Linked DNA regions of Homo sapiens. The protein of the gene in region 3 purifies or fractionates together with the protein of the main gene of each other region. This does not show direct contact. Each region holds a gene or a part of one and is shown on either strand. Other genes may lie near its edges.

What was found. Proteins that work in one complex are often made in the same cells at the same time.
Region 1: the proteins of MAPK8IP1 (region 3) and SH3RF3 purify together in Homo sapiens (affinity purification with western blotting; one study listed by BioGRID). This does not show direct contact.
Region 2: the proteins of MAPK8IP1 (region 3) and TTLL4 purify together in Homo sapiens (affinity purification with mass spectrometry; 2 studies listed by BioGRID and IntAct, with this or other methods). This does not show direct contact.
Region 4: the proteins of MAPK8IP1 (region 3) and VRK2 purify together in Homo sapiens (affinity purification with western blotting; one study listed by BioGRID and IntAct). This does not show direct contact.

The regions. Positions count from the first base shown.
Region 1 is NC_000002.12:109,132,205-109,136,728, reverse strand, and holds part of SH3RF3 (E3 ubiquitin-protein ligase SH3RF3), read right to left. Parts: intron 1-4,524. UniProt on the Homo sapiens protein: Has E3 ubiquitin-protein ligase activity.
Region 2 is NC_000002.12:218,752,335-218,756,858, reverse strand, and holds the end of TTLL4 (tubulin monoglutamylase TTLL4), read right to left. Parts: intron 4,097-4,524; coding exon 3,886-4,096; intron 3,745-3,885; coding exon 3,674-3,744; coding exon of another isoform or gene 3,593-3,673; intron 3,276-3,592; coding exon 3,190-3,275; intron 2,726-3,189; coding exon 2,470-2,725; 3' UTR 1,443-2,469; downstream 1-1,442. UniProt on the Homo sapiens protein: Monoglutamylase which modifies both tubulin and non-tubulin proteins, adding a single glutamate on the gamma-carboxyl group of specific glutamate residues of target proteins.
Region 3 is NC_000011.10:45,891,185-45,896,732, forward strand, and holds part of MAPK8IP1 (C-Jun-amino-terminal kinase-interacting protein 1), read left to right. Parts: intron 1-5,548. UniProt on the Homo sapiens protein: The JNK-interacting protein (JIP) group of scaffold proteins selectively mediates JNK signaling by aggregating specific components of the MAPK cascade to form a functional JNK signaling module. Required for JNK activation in response to excitotoxic stress.
Region 4 is NC_000002.12:58,154,806-58,158,612, reverse strand, and holds part of VRK2 (serine/threonine-protein kinase VRK2), read right to left. Parts: intron 1-3,807. UniProt on the Homo sapiens protein: Serine/threonine kinase that regulates several signal transduction pathways.

The DNA.
Region 1 (4,524 bases), on a different chromosome or scaffold from region 3:
TAAGTGGAAATGCAAATACCATCATATCTTCGTTTGCATCAGTTAACAATGTAAACACGTGCTACCCAAGAGCGCAGTGACTCTTCTTGGGCCTCCTTCAGGTCTCCCAAAGGAGAGCTGCAGCTCTAAATGGCCTCCAAGGATGTGCAGAGCCATCAAGGGCCAGGAGAGCCTAAAGAAAGCAGAATACAAATCATGCTGCAACTTTATACACTTTTTCATTCCAACTTCACTCAATGGGAAAAGGGAGGCTCACATTATGGGGTGCCTGCATGATCTGTAAACCATTCACTGTTGCCAATACCTTCAGCTCGACACCCTGTTCTTTTAAAGTTAATTAAAATTCCAATAGGATACCCATCAAGCATGCATTTCACATTCATCAAATCTGAAGATCTCCCAAGCAAGGCAAATCTGATAAAAATTGACCTTGGCCTCTTCAAGTGGTGCTATCAAGAGCATTTCCCCCAGCAAATGCTTGCTGATGTGTGTGTTTTTTTTTAATGCACCTCAAAAAAGATCATGTTAACTGTAAAAGATAGAGATTAAATACAGATCAAACGGAAATGCACACTAGAAACAATTGCAAAACTGAGCCCCGAATCTGTCATGCTCCAGCAAGCAGGCAGGCTCTCAAAAGCCAGGAGGAAGAAACAATTGGATAGAATTCTGCTCAGCTCCATCACAGCAAGCAGCCTGATTCTAGGCAGCTGTAGACAAGCTATTGTGTCCTACGGATGACGGAGGTGGGCTCGTTTTCAGGATAGCCTGCCAACAGGCTGGATCAGCAACTGAGCAGGATTATTCTCCCCTGCTGTTTTTTTAAAGCAGATTATGGCTTAGACGTTTTTTCCCTTTTAATGAAGTTTGTAAGAATCATGAACACTGCCTCTGATAATAAAGATAAACTTGGAGCAAATTTAAAAAGGAAACCAACAGACTCAAGCAACTACTCCGCATAGATGCCCAGTAATGCTTGACGATCCAGTTTCCACAACATGGACTGACTGAATCTAGAGGCAAAGCATGATATCAGACTCACAACACACACACACCCCCCCATGCACATCCACATCCACACACGTACACGCACACACCCTTAACTTAGAATACTAAATACCACAAATCCACCAGCAGCAAAGCAGGCACTCTGAGGTGTGCCTCACGCGTGATAAGAGACTTGAAGATTTTCGTATTAGGAACAGGCACTGAAACGACAGCCAATCACGTGTGCCAGGCACTGCACATACGTTATCCTATTTATCTAAGAAGCAGATAGCATCCCTAATTCACTGATAACAAGTCTCAGGAAAGCTAGCCCATTTGCCCCGGGGCAGATGGTGAGGAAGTGTGGAAGCCAAGATTAAAACCACCTTCAGTGGGATTCCCACCACCCCTTCCCCTCCTTCCACGTGTCCTGGGGGAGGTGGCAGGCCACCGCCTCAGGAGAAAAGGCAGTCCTGTGTGTGGGCTTCAGACACCAGCCTGGGAGGCAACACTGTCCCCAGGGGTGTAACAAGAAACATGGGGTTGGGGCTGGGTCACCGTTTGCTCACCGACTTGGAGACTAAGTACAAGGGGAAGAAACCCTGCTGTCTCCACTACTGGGTGTTGTCATGGGACTGTGACACCTGAAGCCACGGCCTCTATTTGAGACCTACTGGGTAGGGATGAGAATGAAGCCAACAGAGGAGCAGAGCAGAAGGGCAGACCAAGTATGGATCAGTGAGGAGAGCACAGAGCTGCTGGGTTAGCCAGCTAGGCCACTCAGACTAATGTCCTGTTCATGTCACTTACATATTAATAGAGCTGCCTGTCACCTGCATCCAAAGCCACAACAGATTTGATGCTGTTTCCTGTGGGCCACACTGCTCTGTGCACTCTGTGGGTTTACAAGACAGCAGCCTTGCATAGAAGAGCATCTGCAGCCGTGAGGCACGGTGAATGGAAGGGGTGGCCACTGCTTATGTTTAGAATCGTGCTACCAACGAGCTGAGCCTGTGGTAGAGTAAGAGGACTCTTCTAACCAAGGCCAAAGTTAATCTTCCAAAAAACACCCTCATTAACTGTGTGCCGCTCAGCAAGGAAATTCTGGAGCCTTAATTTCCGTACCTGTGTAACTAGCAACCTCACCAAGTTGCAGTAAGGACCAGATGAGCCACACTTAAAACACCGCTCAACCCTTAGCCCTCAGCAGAGGCTTCATTCACACCTGGTCCCACTGGGTGCTCAATAAATAATAATTTAGATTATTCACTCGCTGGCTGCAAACTGCTGTTTCCACACTCAGGGGCCTTCTGAACAGGACTTTGCTGTAACTCAGCTGTCATATCAACCACTCGTTTGGTCTCTTGTGAGCTGTCTGGTTTTTGGTGAGGCCCCCAAGTGCCAGCCTTTTCCTCTGGAGTCCTTATTATATCCAAGACCGAACCACGACAACATCCCAACCATCCAGCCAAACTGGACAGAAGGGCGGAGGAACAGAATCCTAACTCAATCACTTCCTAGCTCTCTGACTTGCCCAAATATCAATCTCTCTGGGCCTCAAAATAATAATTATACCAGCCACTTGGCAGGATTATTGTGAACTTTCCATAAGGTGATATATGTCAAAGTGCCCAGCATGCAGCAGGCACTCAGTAAATGTTCAACAGAAAATCTCGGGTATATAAGCAGTTCAACTGTCGAGACCCAAAGAACATGGTAACTAGCTTCCAGATACCATAGACACCCTCTATCCTGGCCTCCACTAGCTGACCAGCTGGACTAACCAACATTCCACGTCCTCTGTAACACAGCCAAAGTCACCCACACCCACCAGAGACTACAGCCTGGCAAGGCTGGGCCAGCCACTCCTGCCTGGGGAAGCCTGTGCTTATCAGGGATCTGTTGTCCTTATTCCCAACTATGCTAATGCAAGTTGTACTCATAATGCTAAATATGCACCATAATTCAATAGTCTGTAACAGGGAAAGAAGTTTGAGTGCAAAAAAAAAAAAAAAAAAATTGTCCCTTGGGAAATCAAGATGACCATGTATGAAAGACTCAAACACTAACAAAATGGTCAAATCAGGTGTAAATGAGAACATCAAACATTAGTGGAGAGGTCCTATTTAAAATCTAAATGACGCTCTATTCAGAATCCTTTGAAAATCTTAGTCTTCACTCTATTTGAAAGAAACAAATAGAAAATCATAAAAGGTGACTGTGTTCAGCTAAAAAGACAATCTGGAACTCAAAGAAAGGTCCTCAGCTCTGTACTCAAAAAATGGTGGAAGAATCATACACGTGTATGCTTATAAAATAAAATATTTAACAAATATAATTTTATGATTCTCCAACTTAAATTATTTTCTCTATTAAGTCCCAGTCACATTGTCAAAGAGACACAGAAGAGATTTTCAAACGGATCCAATGTGAACATATACCACTGTACCTCAAGATACAAAATACAGATAAACTTATTAGGCTGTAATGCCGACTTTTATATCATCAAAGGCACTGCCTAAGCTTTCTAGAATTCTTTAATTTGTGACAATGTCCTTCCTTGTAACCCTCACAGAATTCTGGAGTGACACCGGTCAGTGCCCACGGGTACCTTCTGAGAGCTGGGCAGACAGCTTGCAACCACTCACTACCTCTACTGTCAGCTCCATCCAGAAAGCCCAAGCCAGTCTTGTTTACCTATAATAGTGCCTAGCCGAGTCTACATGAACTGCAGAAGATGTTCTGTATAGGCTCAAATATAAGTCAAGGATTTAAAAAATTTTCAAAACAAAATTGGAATTGTCTGATATTCAAGTCCTTATTAAATCACTTACATTAAAAAGCATGTTTTGAATTACTCAATGTGGAACCACAAAACTCTTTTAGCAAGACTCCCACTGCACTGAAACAATTTGATTGATGCTAGCTTGGGATGTTAAAGGGATTTTCTTGCAAAATAGTGAAAACAAAACAATAAACAAACAAGTTAGCCTGAGAAATTTAGCATACATTAGCAACTGCAAGGGTTAGACAGTACCATTAAAACAGGACTGTTTAAAGGTCACTTCAAGAAGTAACACATATGAACACACTTTAAGAAGCAACACACATATAGTATTTGCCAACAGGCAAATAAAAAGACCAACTCCTGATCTTAGGCTATGGGTACTCGTCACTGGGTATATTATTTCCAGGGGCAGCATCGTTAACTGACTCCACAAAAGCGCTTTATCTCAAATGGCTCAGGTGAGAGCAGAGCTGAGAGGTTCTGCTAACCACGTCAGGGGACTCCAAGTACTCTGGTGATCACCAAAACCGATGAAAAACAACAGGTAAAGAGTTCAGGAAAACACTGTTTTGTGTCCTGCCAGTAAAACCAAACAGAAATTAAAACTTTTTTTTAAATAAAGCTGTCAAAATATTGAACCGTAACAAAATTAATAAAGTAAACAAGCTATGCCAATACTTACCTATATACCTAAAAAGTATACATACCCTAATTGGCCCAAAAGAAGATGTAAGGAGCTTCTAATTGGA
Region 2 (4,524 bases), on a different chromosome or scaffold from region 3:
TGACTGCCCTCCTCCACTTTCCACCCCAAGCCCTTACTCCACTACTCCAGAAATAGCCTGCACTTCATTCCTTGTCTCAAGAACACTCGCCTCCCTTCCTCCAAATAGACTAGGTAAGTTATCAACTTAGGAAAACAACTGACATATTCTGACAAATATTTATTCTACTATACTCCCAATTTAACCTTCCCAAAAAAATCTCATTCCTTCTCAAAAATTCCTGCTTAGCTGAATACCTCATATTGTGGGCATTCAATACAAAAGTATATATGCCAAATGCTTGATAAGATTTAATTTTCTCTCAAGAGTGAGAGGTAAATGTGGTATGTAAGTCCCATTCCTTTCTCCTACCCAGCAAAACACCCATGTCTATCAGATACTCAAATGTGATGAAAATTAAGAATAATGTACAAACTTGTTTTAAACTAAGAGCAGTGTCTTTCCATTGCTCTTTTAGGACCTTCATTGCTCACAAGGACTTAATTTCCTAAGTCCTTCTCCCTTCCCCCACCATGCTTCCCCCAATACCCCCATTCAGCAATGCTGGTTCCCTCTCCAGTTAGGGCAATGGAAATAGATTGGTTGTGTTGTACAGGGATTCTCAGGGGGCAAGCCAAAGAACTGAAGTTCGTTTTCATGGAGTAAACCAGCTCAACCAGGACTCCGTGCCTAGGTCCTTGCCGTGAAGGCCCAGCCACAACAAAACTGCCAGGCAGGCAGCTCATTTTCTCTTAGGAAGGCAGCAGATTCCCCATGTCATGTCTGCACTAGAATACTGCAGCCAGCGGGGAGAAGAGGCGGGTCACTTCAATTACATCAGAAAAGATCCAATAGGAGTGTCAAGGACCTCTCCCATTATGGCCCGACTTTAAAGTCCTTACTATTGAGCAGCCAATGATGCCCAGGACTTTGTCACCAAACTTTCACAACTGTCAACATGGCCTTAGGACCGGCCAAACACCCACCTACTCTGTGGCCTTGAACCCAATCAGGCCTCTCAGTGATCTTTCCAGGGCCCCACCCCACCTCGCCACAGAACTCCAGGAGCCATGAAACACAGAAGTCTCTATCTTTCCAAAGCTCAGAGAGAATGGGGGCAGCTACAGTCCAGGGTGAGACCAAGTAGCTGAGCTTTCTGCCTGATGTGCAAAGAGAAAACTTGAGTAGCAGGGACACGGGGCCAATTGGCTTCTTATATGTGCCACTGCTAGAAAAAACTAAGTAAAGGGACTACAGGGGCTGGGGAGGAGGCAAGCAGCAACCACTAAGTGCAGGGTTAGGAAGGAGCACGGCTTCAGAGAAAACCTTTCTGATCCGAACTCTTCCGCTTGTGCTGTTCCCAGGTTCCACTTTCTCATACCTAGATGAGAGACAATTAGAACTTCTGGTTCAAGTGCTGGGGTCCTTTGAGATCTCTGTAAATACAGTTCACTCAGTCAACATTTATTGAATAGTCACTGTTTACTGAGTCTAGAGGAGGGAGGTAGAATCAGTTCAGTACAAGAGTTTAGTCTGAGGTTTGATTGGAAGCCCATCCTACAATAGTGACTGCTCCTGAAACCCACCTACCAAGCCGCCAGACCCTGCTTGCTGCACAGCAGAACATTGAGAAACCATGTTTGTTGCACTATAGAGAAACCACATCTCCTTCCACCCTCCCCCTGGACTGTGTCCTTTGATACATGGAGACAGGTAACAGCTACTGGGATTATCTGGGCTCCTTCACTGGGGCCATGGGAAATTCACAAAGTTCATAGACCCTCTCACACCTCAGAGAAAGCCAACAGCTAAAGAACAGATGTCCACGAGAGAGACATCTAGAAGGCTGAACGAGCAGTGATGGGGGGTCAGAACAGGAAGACCTAGGGCTGCTGGCAGGGTGGGTATTTGGAAGGAGGCGGTGAAGACCCAAGACTAGGATGACAGGAAATGGGTTCGGCATGTTGTGGCCTCTCCGCCTGTCTACTGAGGAAGTTCAAGGGTTTCTCCTCAGGACAGCGGTGGGAGAGGGGTGAGGAAAGACCTAAGGAAGTAAGGACCTCAGAAGACCCCCTCAAATTCAGAACAAAGGATTTCCGGTCCAAATATGTTCTGTATGTTTTCTCCTCTTGAGCTACAACTCAGCAACCACACCAGGGCCCCCAGACAAACCACACATGGCTCACTTAAGGTAGAAACCAAAACCTGCTTTATAAGGCTGCGTGGCCACCACTGGCTTCTCTGCTGAGATATGAGGTGCCAGCCAGGCAGACAGGTGACAGAGGGTGACCCTTCCTCACCTTCTCCCCATCACTACCATCCCTCCGGCCCTACAAATACCCATCTCTATAATGCAACCACTTCAAAAAATACTCTGAGGAGGGACAGGGTGAAAGGGGTAGGGGGTCAGACTGGTCTGAACAGCAGGCTGGTTCCCGTGAGGTAGCTGATGCCCATGCTCCTGGGCAGAGGCTTTTGGAGAGAGGCCAGTTATGGGCTCACAGCCAGGAGGGAGTCACTGATTGACTGGAAAGTGGAGGAAGCAGAAAGTCTTGAAGTCTGCCCAGAGCACTTGATCACAGGTAACGTCTGGGTAGAAAGGCTGGGCTCTTTGCTGGTGTCCTCACTGTCCTTTGAGGAACTGGGTTTCTGGGGATAAGGGGAAAGGCCAGCTTGAGTCTTCTTGGATTTGGGCGTGGTCCCGTCTTCAGAGAGTAGTAGGCTAACCTCACAGGAGCTTTGTTTTCTGGAGGGAATAGGTGGTGAAAGAAATGACTGAGACACTGTTTAACTGAGACTTTACCTTAGGATTTGCCTTCAGTCTGGAGCAGGCATTCACGACATTACAGTGTTGTAGGCCAAAATTACATGGAAATGTAATAACCATAAAAAAAATTCTATTTACTTGAAGGCTTGAGACCTGCAGTGCAAGAGTGAATGGGGGTGCGGGTAGAGGGCTAACAATTTCCCACAGCTAGTGGGTATGGCTGACAGTGGCTGCTTCAGGAAGCACTTCTGTCCTCCAGCTCAGCTTCCCTGGGCATACCAAGATCTACCAGAAAAAGGATGCTATGGCTGCATGTCCTGACGCTCCCACCAACCCCCAGCTGGAGAATGCTGATCTCACTGCCACAGTCTGGGAAGAGGGGAAGGAAGAAAACTCTACAAACTCACAGCCAGCAGCCCCTCCCTTGCCCAGGCAGCACTCACCCCAGCTTGCTAGTCTCTGATTTGCTGAAGGCATTGAGTATCACGTCATCCTTTGAGATAGTCAGAAGTGATGTCGGGAGAGACCACTAAGAGCAAAGGAAGCAATGAGACCAAAAGGCTTGGCGGAGGCAAGGCAGGAGTGTTTGGGGTCTTGGTACCCTCCAGCTCTACCTCTAAATGGATCATGGGGTTCTCCCCTTCCCTACCCCTCAGGCATGGGCCCAGGTGGGTAAAAGTCTCAGTTCTCTTCTGAATCAAACAAGAAGTTGAGGCCTACAAAGCACTTTTTGATCCTTGAAAGAAAGGTACCCAGGGAATCCTGGAGGCAACTATTCCCTTGAAAGGAAAGAATGGTGAGACAGAAGCAGAGCCTAGCGGAGAAGTGAGAGAGGCCTATACATACCAACCCAACTCCTGCTGCACTCATAAGGCAGAGGAGGGAGGGGCCTGAGAAGGAGCTGTCCTCCACACTGGCAGCACTCACCACTGGAGCAGAATCAGAGACAACTCCCATGTGGAACCCTTTGTAGCACCAACTCCGGAGCAGATCTACTCCTAGGACAAGATTAGCAGGAGTTGGGGTTTAAGAAGGTAGAATCAATTGGCCAATTCTTTCCAGAGAGGCCCATTTCTTGGTATACTGGGATTTAATCTCTCACTAAACTTGGCTTTCTGAGGGCAGGGAGGGCACATCACCTTTAAGCTTGTTGCCATGGTATTTCTGTTCCCATTGGGTGGTGAGAATGTTGAAATATCGTGGCTGCTCAAAAAAGCGGAGATAGCGAGAGGAGATATGAGAAGGAAAAATTCGTTCAAACTGACCACGGCGAGAAAACTCATCTTCCATCTCAACCAGAATCCGAACATCATCTGGTGTCAGGACATCCAGCACAGATGCATAGAAGTCCTGTGGTCCAAGGAACAGGGAGAAAAAGGGTGTGAGAGAGTGTAAGCCAGGGGCAGAGACTCAAGAAGCTGGGGAACAGGGAGCACACCCCTGGGGTCCTACAGCTCCGGGACTCTCATGGAACTACTGAGGGCAGCCTAGTGGGCCAGCTCTGAAAGACATCTGTTCCTAAGTCTACTGAACTTAGCTAGTGGGGGAAGGCACTCTTGTTTGGGGTCAGGGGAGCCACTGGGGCTGAGAGGTTAAGTAGTTTGTTGGGTAAAGTCAAGATGAGGATCCAGCAATTCAGATTTGGCACCAGTCTTGTATCTGCCATGCTTAAATCCAGCTTCCTTATCTGCTCTGAGAAAGTCAGCTTCCTGGGGTCTCTCACTGTGCCTCTCAGAGAAAGAAACCCAAAGGGTAAAAGTCTATAGTTTGGACAAGAG
Region 3 (5,548 bases):
ACACACTTCTAGCTTGGGGCCCCCATGGTTCCCACAAATTGGGTCACAGCCACCATCCACACGTAGTTCTTAATCATTCTATGATGCCATCTTTGTTCCCTGGCCCCACTCTTGTATTCATTCCAAAATAGCAGGAGCGTCTCTGGGTGCTTTGCCTTGTTCCGCCACTGGAGATGCCAGTGGAGAGCTCATGGCTCCTGCTGTCATGTTGCTTGCAGTGCCTCTTTAATAGGCACTGATTTAGCACCTATGGTGTGCAGGGTTTTGGGCTTTGTGCATAGATTGGAGCAAAGGTGGGGAGTCAGTGCCCAGGTGAGTATGATGACCCTGCCCTCAGGAAACTTGCAGCTCTGGGGAGGGCAGGCAGCCCAGCAGCAGACGGGGAGCCCATGCTAGGCTGGCATGACCCAAGATGAAAGTCTGTGAAGGACAGCAAAGGAGAAAAGAGCGCCCCAGATTCTACCCCATCTCACAACTCTGTGTCCATGTGAGTGTTTCTTCCTGTGTGCAATATCATCCTGGGGAGACCACTGGATCATATATGCTGTCTTTTTGCTCATTTTATTAGTTGTCACCTTAATACACAGACTTTATAATGTTGATTCCAAAAGACTGCATCACATTTCATCTGCTGATGGCCACGATGGAACCAGCCCCCTGGTGCTGGGTGACGCAGGTGTTTTCAGTTGTTTGCTGTGATGAGGAATGAACATCCTGTGTGTAACAGTTCTTCTCCAAACAATGTGGGATTGTTTCCTCGAAGCAGTTTCCCAAAAGTCGAACAACTGGATCCCAGAGTTCTTGCAATGTATCAGCATGAAGATGTTTAAACAGATCAAACATGTTATAACCGCAAGTGGGGTTGTCCCTCGGGGCTCATTTCTTTGGTTGGATTCAGTTTTCGTTGGAGATGACCTCCGTATGGAGGTGGTCAGGAAGGGAATTCTGACCCAAAGAACAAACCCAGCCCAACCCCATGTTCACCCAGAGCCAGGTGGTGGGGGTAGAGCGAGGGCCTGAGAGGGATGCTGGGTCTGGCTCATCCCCACCCCACCGTTTCAGCCAGCACCGTCTTCCCAGAGGACCTGACATCCTAGCCCAGACTCTGGTGTAGGTGGGGACACAGGAAGTTGATTGGAAAAGTGGACTAACTTAGAGATTTCCAAGGCAAAAATCCAGAGAGCCCTGGGACACCTGTGGTTAATTCATTCAGCATTTGTCAAGTACCTATTAGGCACCACACATGTTGATCAAAACAGATATGATCCCACCCATATGGATTAACTGACTCCAAGGGGAGGCCACCGCGGGCCGCATAACCCAAAGGTAAAATTACAGTGATACGGAACCACAGCCAGGAGGGACTCCGAGAGCCCATAGCAGGGCGGTTTGGCTTGGTCCCAGAGGTCAGAGAAGGCTTGCAGAGGAGACCATGCTACTGCTTTGGGAGCTGCGCTATTGAAGGAGGAGATAAAGGTGGGAGGTGGGGGGAATGAAGGGAAATGATACTGGTTGGAGGGAAAGGAGGCTTTACAGAGCCTTCAGGCCACAGATGAGAATTTGGGCCCCTTCTCCTAAGGACCAGGGGAAGCTATTAAAGGGCTTTGAGCTGGGAAGAGTGACCAGACCAGATTTGTAATTCAGAGGTCAGCTTTGCTGTCATTACCTGGTGGAGAGTGGCTGGTAGAGGAACCAGAGGGAAATGGGGAACCCACTTAGGGTTGAGCGGCCAGTCAACAGGTGTCCTGAGAACTCACTGGGAGCCAGCTTCGTTCTCAGCACTTAGAGGGCTGCAAAGAGGCAGGCTGGATCCCTGGACCACACGTGCCCTCTGTCACAAGAGAGGCTTGTGGGGCATTGTGGCCAGGACCCAAGGTCAATCAGCTGGCATCCTTACCTCCTCACCACAGCACAGCCAGGAACACAAAGGCCCAAGAATGACATCTGAACAGCCAATGCCTGGCTCAGATTTGGCCTTGCTCAGCTAAAGCCTCAGCACTTTACCACTTAACCTTTGCTTTACATACACTTCTAACTCAGCCTACTACGGAGCTGAAATAGTCCGTTAGAAAGGGCAGGACTGTGGTTGGTGGAAATGTGACCCAGCAAGGCAGGGGAAAAGGGCCTGAAATCAACATCAGAACACAAAAGGCATGTTTGTTCAGGGCCATTTAGAAAAGTGCAGCTCAGGGTGGGGTGGGAGCAGGAGCTGGTATGGCGAGAACAGTGAGGAGCTGGCAGGGCAAAAGCAAGGACTGGGGCAGCAGAGTAGGAGGGATCAGGTGAATGCAGGAACAGGGCCTCAGGTAGAAAGGTCAGGGCGGTCTCCAGAGACCAAACTCACAGCTCAGAGCCACCAAACGTTAATATGGATGACGTCTCAAGGATCACAGCATCCAGGATAGACAAGCAGGTCTGATGGGTGGGCAGGGGCTGCTTCTACAGGAGACTGCTGAAACTTCCAGACCCAGAGGTGAGGGAGGCCGGCCTGCGGAGGGCCGTAGGATTCAGTTTGGAGGCCTCCTGGTGCTAAGGCTGCCATGAGCAGGGTGGATCAGGCGGGACAGGAGGGAACCGCCCTCTTTTCCCCTTCTTCCCCTCCCTTCTCCCCTCCATCTTTTCCTCCCTCCTCCTTTCCCTCCCTTCCCCACATTGACCTTCCATGAGCCTTCAGGGACCAAGTGTCTGTTTAGCCTTCTCTCCATAAAGGGACCCCCCAGGGTTTTAGCTGGGAGGCCAGAACATCTGGTGCCTGGAAAAGAGGAAAGGGCAGAGTCTTGGATGGGGGGTGACTTGCACAGGGTACTCTTTGACCAATCAGTCCCCCTTGATCCTTGGTAGTGACCTCCTACTCACACAAATTCCATTCTGCTAACCCTCACCAGCCCTCTGAGGTGGGTGGGCAGGGATTGGTGGCTTCATCCTGTATCTGGGAAGCTGAAGCATAAGGCACCTTTATGTCTAAGCCTTAGTGTTCCTCATCTGTAAAATGGGAAAAATGGAACAAACCCTCTCCCAAGGTTGTTGCAATGAGGATTAAGAGAGATGCATGGCATAAATGTTGGGGCCAAGATGGGGCAGCTTCAACGTGAAAGAGTCAGGATTTATTTCAGGCCTCCTGCTTCCAAGCCTGATATGGTGATCATTCTTCCATCCTGCCTTACTTATGAGAGGCACCTAAAAAGTCAGACAAAGCATCCCCCTTAACCCACCCCAGTAGAGCCAGGGATCAGGCATAGGCTCTCTGACCCCCAGCCCAGTATTCTTTCTAGCATTGCCCAATTAAAGCCCAGTGCCCTCAGCTGTACAGGAAGAATGCTGCTGTCCTTGCCCCACCCAGACCTATTGTCCAAGGAAGTGGGAATATCAGGTGATGTTGAGGGTGTAGAAGTGAACTGAGAAGCCTCTAACCCAGGTCTAAGCCAGACCCTGCAGGCCCTGCTCCAGCCTGCAGTTCGAGAGGAGCAGGTGGAGGCAGAGGCTGTCCTGTGACAGACATCTAGCAGGCTCATGCTGAGGACTCAGTGTATGCAGGATGAACTCGCCAGCTCTGCCCTCCAGGAGCAAGGGGAGGAAGGGGTCTTGATCACCTGCTGGGTACAGTATAGGGTCATCAATCAGGGTGCTGGATACAGGCCCCATCCACCTTTGGAGCAGCCAGGGGGTGGGAAGTGGGTGTTTCTGAGGGAGGGCTGGCCCTGTCTGCTGCACACACTACTGTACATCCAGGCAGATGGTGACATCAGCCACATGCAAGGGCTGGGAGGGCTTCCTGGAAGAATGAGCTTAACTGAGCACTCTTCCAGCAAGCATGGTTTGAGAGTCTGCCACGTGCTCCCTCTGAGCACTGGGTTTGGCACTGGGGAGACACAGTGCCCACGCAGACTACGCATGGAGCTGGAGGCCTTGCCTGCAGGCACAGGAACCTGCTGCTAGTGGAGAGCCTTGAGGGTTCCAAGTGGGGCGGGAGGGATGATGGCATTTCTGGCAGTTTTGCCTGATAGTGGCAGGTGGAGTGGGATGGTGCAGGCATAGGGAGACTGAGACAGACAGGCCAGTGGGGACATCTGGGAGGGCAGAGGCAGGAGCTGGACTAGGGCTTGGCAGTGAGGAAGCGGAGCCATGTGTGAGGAGACACAGATGTGTGCAGGGGGGCTGGGCACCATGGCTCACGCCTGCAATCCCAGCACTTTGAGAAGCCGAGGCGAGCAGATCACCTGAGGTCAGGAGTTCAAGACTAGCCTGGCCAACATGGTGAAACCCTGTCTCTACTAAAAATACAAAAATTAACCAGGTATGGTGATGCACACCTGCAATCCCAGCTACTCAAGAGGCTGAGGCAGGAGAATCACTTGAACCCAGGTGGCAGAGGCTGCGGTGAGCCAAGATCATGTCATTGCTCTCCAGCCTGGGTGACAGAGCGAAAGGCCGTCTCAAAAAAAAAAAAAAATATATATATATATATATATATATATATGTGCAGAGGTCACTGGCAGAGCAGGGGCATTTCAGGGCACCTCTGGGTCAGCGGTCCTGCAGCTCTCCCATGCCATCTGAGTACCAGGGGCTCCCTTTTGCACCACTGGCCTTCTCGGTGACCATCTGGGCAACCAGTGTGAATTGAACACTTACTTGGTGCTGGCCACTGGGTTTTTGTCCCTGAGCCTGAGATGCCACCCTGCCCTGGCCGGACGGAGGAGGGCTGCTCTGGCTTCTGGGCCAGGCCCTCCTCCCCACTTCCACCCCAGCTGGCCAGCCACACCCTCCCCATGGCCTGGGGAACCACCACCCTTGGGCTGCAGGTCAGACGTGACCCTACAGGGCACCTTGTCCATCCAGCCCCCATTCCCCACCCCTCTGTGCAGTGCCCTCCAGGGGCCTCCAGGTTCTGTTTATGTCATTCCAAAGGGAGAGGAAGCTCATTACCACACAGCAGCCCTTCCAGCTCTGCTCTAAGGGCCCAAACACTGGCCTGCCCTTAGCTGTGGCTCTGGTGCCTCCTGCTTCCATAGGCCCTGCCTTCCTGGGTCCTGAAGGCTCAAGCTCTGGCTGCAGAAGGAGGCAGCCCAGATCAAACCCAGTTTGGATGCAGCCTGGGCCCACAGAAGCCTCTCTGATGAGGTCGGGGGGCTGAGCCTATGGCAGTGCAAACCGAGTGTTCATTCTTAGGGTGTTTGGGAAGCCCCCCTTCATCTCCCACCTGGCACCCTGACTGGGGAACTGGCCCTTTAAAGCCAACCAAGGGCTGGCTTTTGGGGGGAAACATCCTAGATTTCTGCCATCTACTTACAAGCCTGGGCCAGGGAGGGGGGGCCACTCAGCCCCCGACAGGGGCATTGGAAGGGCAGGTGGAGCCAGTGGCATTGATTGCAGTAACCTGATCCCGTGAGGGAGGCGGCCACAGCGGCAGCAGCGCAAGGGCCAGGCCAGCCGGGAGGAAGGTGCCTGCAGCTGAGGGCTGCGCTGGGAAGAGCTGGGGCTGGGACCCGGGTCGGCAGCTGCAGCCTCCTCTCCTGGCCTGTCTATTTTTAATGAGCTCCCCAGGCTT
Region 4 (3,807 bases), on a different chromosome or scaffold from region 3:
CCTCAGCACCATTTATCAAGTAACTAACTTAGAAGAGAAGAAATTTATAAAACAAAGCAAAATACTTTAAGCTTGTTCACTGTCCATCATTCTCAGAATAGCTACTACCTTCTCAACCTTTAAACTGCCACCCTTCAAACAAACAGCCCTCCCCTTTCTAGATACAGAGTTTTGGAAGTGTCAGAAAGGAGTCCTACATAAAACAAAGGATGTTTTAAAAACTACTAGCTTTCCTATGAAAAAAAATTACTTGAGAGTTAAATGACTCACTTTAGAGTTAAATAACTCATTTTAAACTACTCTTTCTGAGCTAACGAAGTCACATTAATGCAGTTTTTCATAAGTTTGTCAGCTTTATTAACTAAAGTCAAAATAAGTGAATAATTATTCCAGTAGGCCTATAAAGCATAATACAAATAATAATTATGCTATCAAATCATAGAGCAGCATTTACATATAGCTCACATGTGCAAGGCTGGGAGATATCTCCACTTAGGTAAGGATAGAAGTCAAGCTACTATAATTTCCAGAATCATCTACTGTGTAATCTATACACTTAATCTCTCTTGAACATCAGCAAATGACATCATATGGCAAGGCACTCATCAAAGAATTTAACCACCTGTTGTCTTCAGTACACTGAGGGGGTCTGATTAGGATAGTCTATAACAGGAGTTGCCAAAATTTGGCTTGGCTAGTTGCCTGTTTTGTGAATAAAGTTTTATTGGAACAGAGCCACATCAATTTGTTTATGTATTGTCTATGTGGGCTTTTGCACTACAATGGCATTGTTGAATAGTTCTGACAAAAACTGTATGGAAAGTAAACTGAAAATATTTTCTTTCTGGCCTTTTAAGAAAAGGTTTGCTGACCCCTGCTCTACGGCATTATTCTTCGAGTATTAGAAAGCAAACAGATCATCATAACTTGTTAAAATGCAGATCTCATTCAAAAGGTCTAGGAGTATGACCTGAGATTCTGTATTTCTGAGAAGCTCCAGATGATGCCAATACAGCTGGTCTGCACACCCCACTTTGAGTAGCAAAGGGCTCAAGGCAATGCAATAATCTACTGTGATAGAGCATTGGTTCTCAGCCTGGGTTGATCCTGCCCCACAGAGGACATTTAGCAATTTCTGGAGACATTTTGGGTTGTTACAGCTAGGAGGAGATACTATTGACACCTAGTAGATAAGTACTAGGAATGATGCGAAACATCCTACATCACAGGACAGCACCCCCACAACAAATAACAGCTCAGCTCCCAAATGTCAACAGTGCAGCTGTCAAGAAACCCTACATTAGAATAGTTATTAACTTTGAATGCACATCAGAATCGACTGGGAAGCTATGAAAAATAGCAACACTACTTCCACTCTGGCCATGAAAATCTGATACCAGACTTCCCCTTCTGCTGTGAAAACCCATAAATAAATAATAGAAAACAAAATTAGTCAAAATATGTGAAATAACTTAGGGATCTAAAACAAAGCTCAGGAAGGGAAAATAACACAGACCTAAGAAAGGCCACAATTTAAGATTTACTGCAGACTAGGCCAAAAAAGCCTGAACAGAACTTATAAAATGATCAGGTTTAGTCACCAGTAAGTTAACTGTCTGCCAGAACTAACCTCAAAACTCTTTAAAGGAATGCAATAAAATCTGGAGTCTAAAGACCACAGCATCCACAATGTTCAGTATACAATAAAACTACTACAAATGAGATGCAGGAAATGTGACCCATAACCAGGAGAAAAAATTAACAGAGATTCAGGGCTGATCCAGATGGTACAATTATCAAACAAGGACTATAAAACATCTACATAAATATGTTCAAGGAATTAAAGTTGAACATAATTAATGAACAGATATGGGGGAGGTGGAATCTCAACATACAAAGAAATATACTTGTGGAACTGAAAAATACAGGGTATAACATGAAAAATTCATTGGCTAGGTTTAACAGCTGATTTGACAATCAACTAGAGGTCAGGCAAAAACAAAACAAAACAAAACAAAACAAAACAAAAAAAACACCACCACCCAACCTGAGGTACAGCAACATAAAAGACTGATTTAAAAAAATAGTTATTTAGCTGCCTATGAAAAAGGTAAAGTATTCTAACATGCATGTATTTGGAACTCAGAGAAATAAGAGAGATTAAGGCATGAAACAAATTGATGAAATCATACAAAACCTTTCCAATTTGAAGACAAATATCAACCCACAGATAAAAGCAGCTCTACGAACCCAAAGCACAATAAACAAAAGACAGCCATCCTTACAAAACCAAAAATAACAAGCAAATCTTGAAAGCCACAGAAAGAAATACATTATAAATGGGCCAATAAGAATAACTGCTAACTTCTTAGCAGAAAAAAAAACAGACCTATGAAGATGGAAACATCCTTTTTAAAGTTCTGAAAGAATAGATTCCATATTCAATGAAGCTTTCAAAATCAAAGTGAGGGGCATCCAGTTATAGACAAGAAAGAGTAAGCATCCCACCTTATTCTGGTAATTAAAGAGTGGACAAAAAGCACCTATCAAAACACTGAAAATTCTAAAAATGACCCTCCCTTGAGTCTCCACCCGCCATGTACTTTAGTACCTCCTATTACCCCAGCCTGGGCCATAAAAGAGCCTGCGTTCTGGAAACAGCAATATGCACAGACTGGAAAAAAAAAAAAACAAACATGAAAAACATGCTCTATGTAACCAATAGCCCTGGGGGAGGACAGGTCTACAGGACAGAATCTTTTTATACCTGCTGAACCCTAGGTGAACACCATGAAAGAAGCTGTACCTTACTTCTCTCCAGGTGCTGTGGAAACGGGGCGGCGGGGTGGGGGGGATGGTGGGGGCGGTGGGGAGGTGGCAAGGGTGGGGTGAAGAGGGAGGGTACAGTCCTGTTGAGTATCATCACCCTACACTAACCAGGGAGCACACCTACCCTTCCCCCATCAAGCACTGTGGAGACAGGTAGAGCCCTGTTGACCGTCCTCACACTAACAAGGTGATACCCTATCCCACTGGGTGTTAGGGAAATTGTGAGATAGAGCTCTGACAACCTTTCCCAGCCTGTACTACTGAGGTGGTCCCCCTTCCTTCCCACCAGGAGACTACCAAAACTGTAAGGCAGAGCCATATAGCCTGTTCCTCCCTGCACTAACACAAGCAGATGTGGTACCTGTCTTCCTCCCCACCAGACACTGTAGAGACCGTAGTAGAGAGCTACCAACCTTCTCCACCTTGCACTGAGCAAACATCAGAGCAACAGCAACCCTCCACTCTGGCCTCAGAAACTGGAGAGGCACTTGCCCTTTTGACCGTGCCTGCTGTGCATTAAACAGCAAAGAGTTGGCATCGCACATCTCCCTAACTAGAAAGCTCTGTTCTCAGTAATTGATATAACTACTAGAGTGAAAATCAGCAGGAATATAAAATAAATCAGTAACATCACAAGATAATGGGATCTAGCTGATATTTATAGACTACTTCACCCCCAAACAGGAAAATACATGTTCTTTTCAACTGCAACTGGAACATTCAACCAGGCAGACCGTCATATCCTATCCATAAAACAAACCCTAACAAATTTATATTGTTAGACCATAATATAATTAAACTAGAAATCAATAACTGAAAAAAAAATCTTCAGATACTTGGGAATTAACACATTTCTAAATAAGGTATTAAAAGTCTCAAGGGGAAATATATTTTGAAGTGAACAAAATTGAAATGTATAAATATTTACAGGATGCAGTACAAACAGGGTTTAGCAGGACACTTATAGCATGGAATACT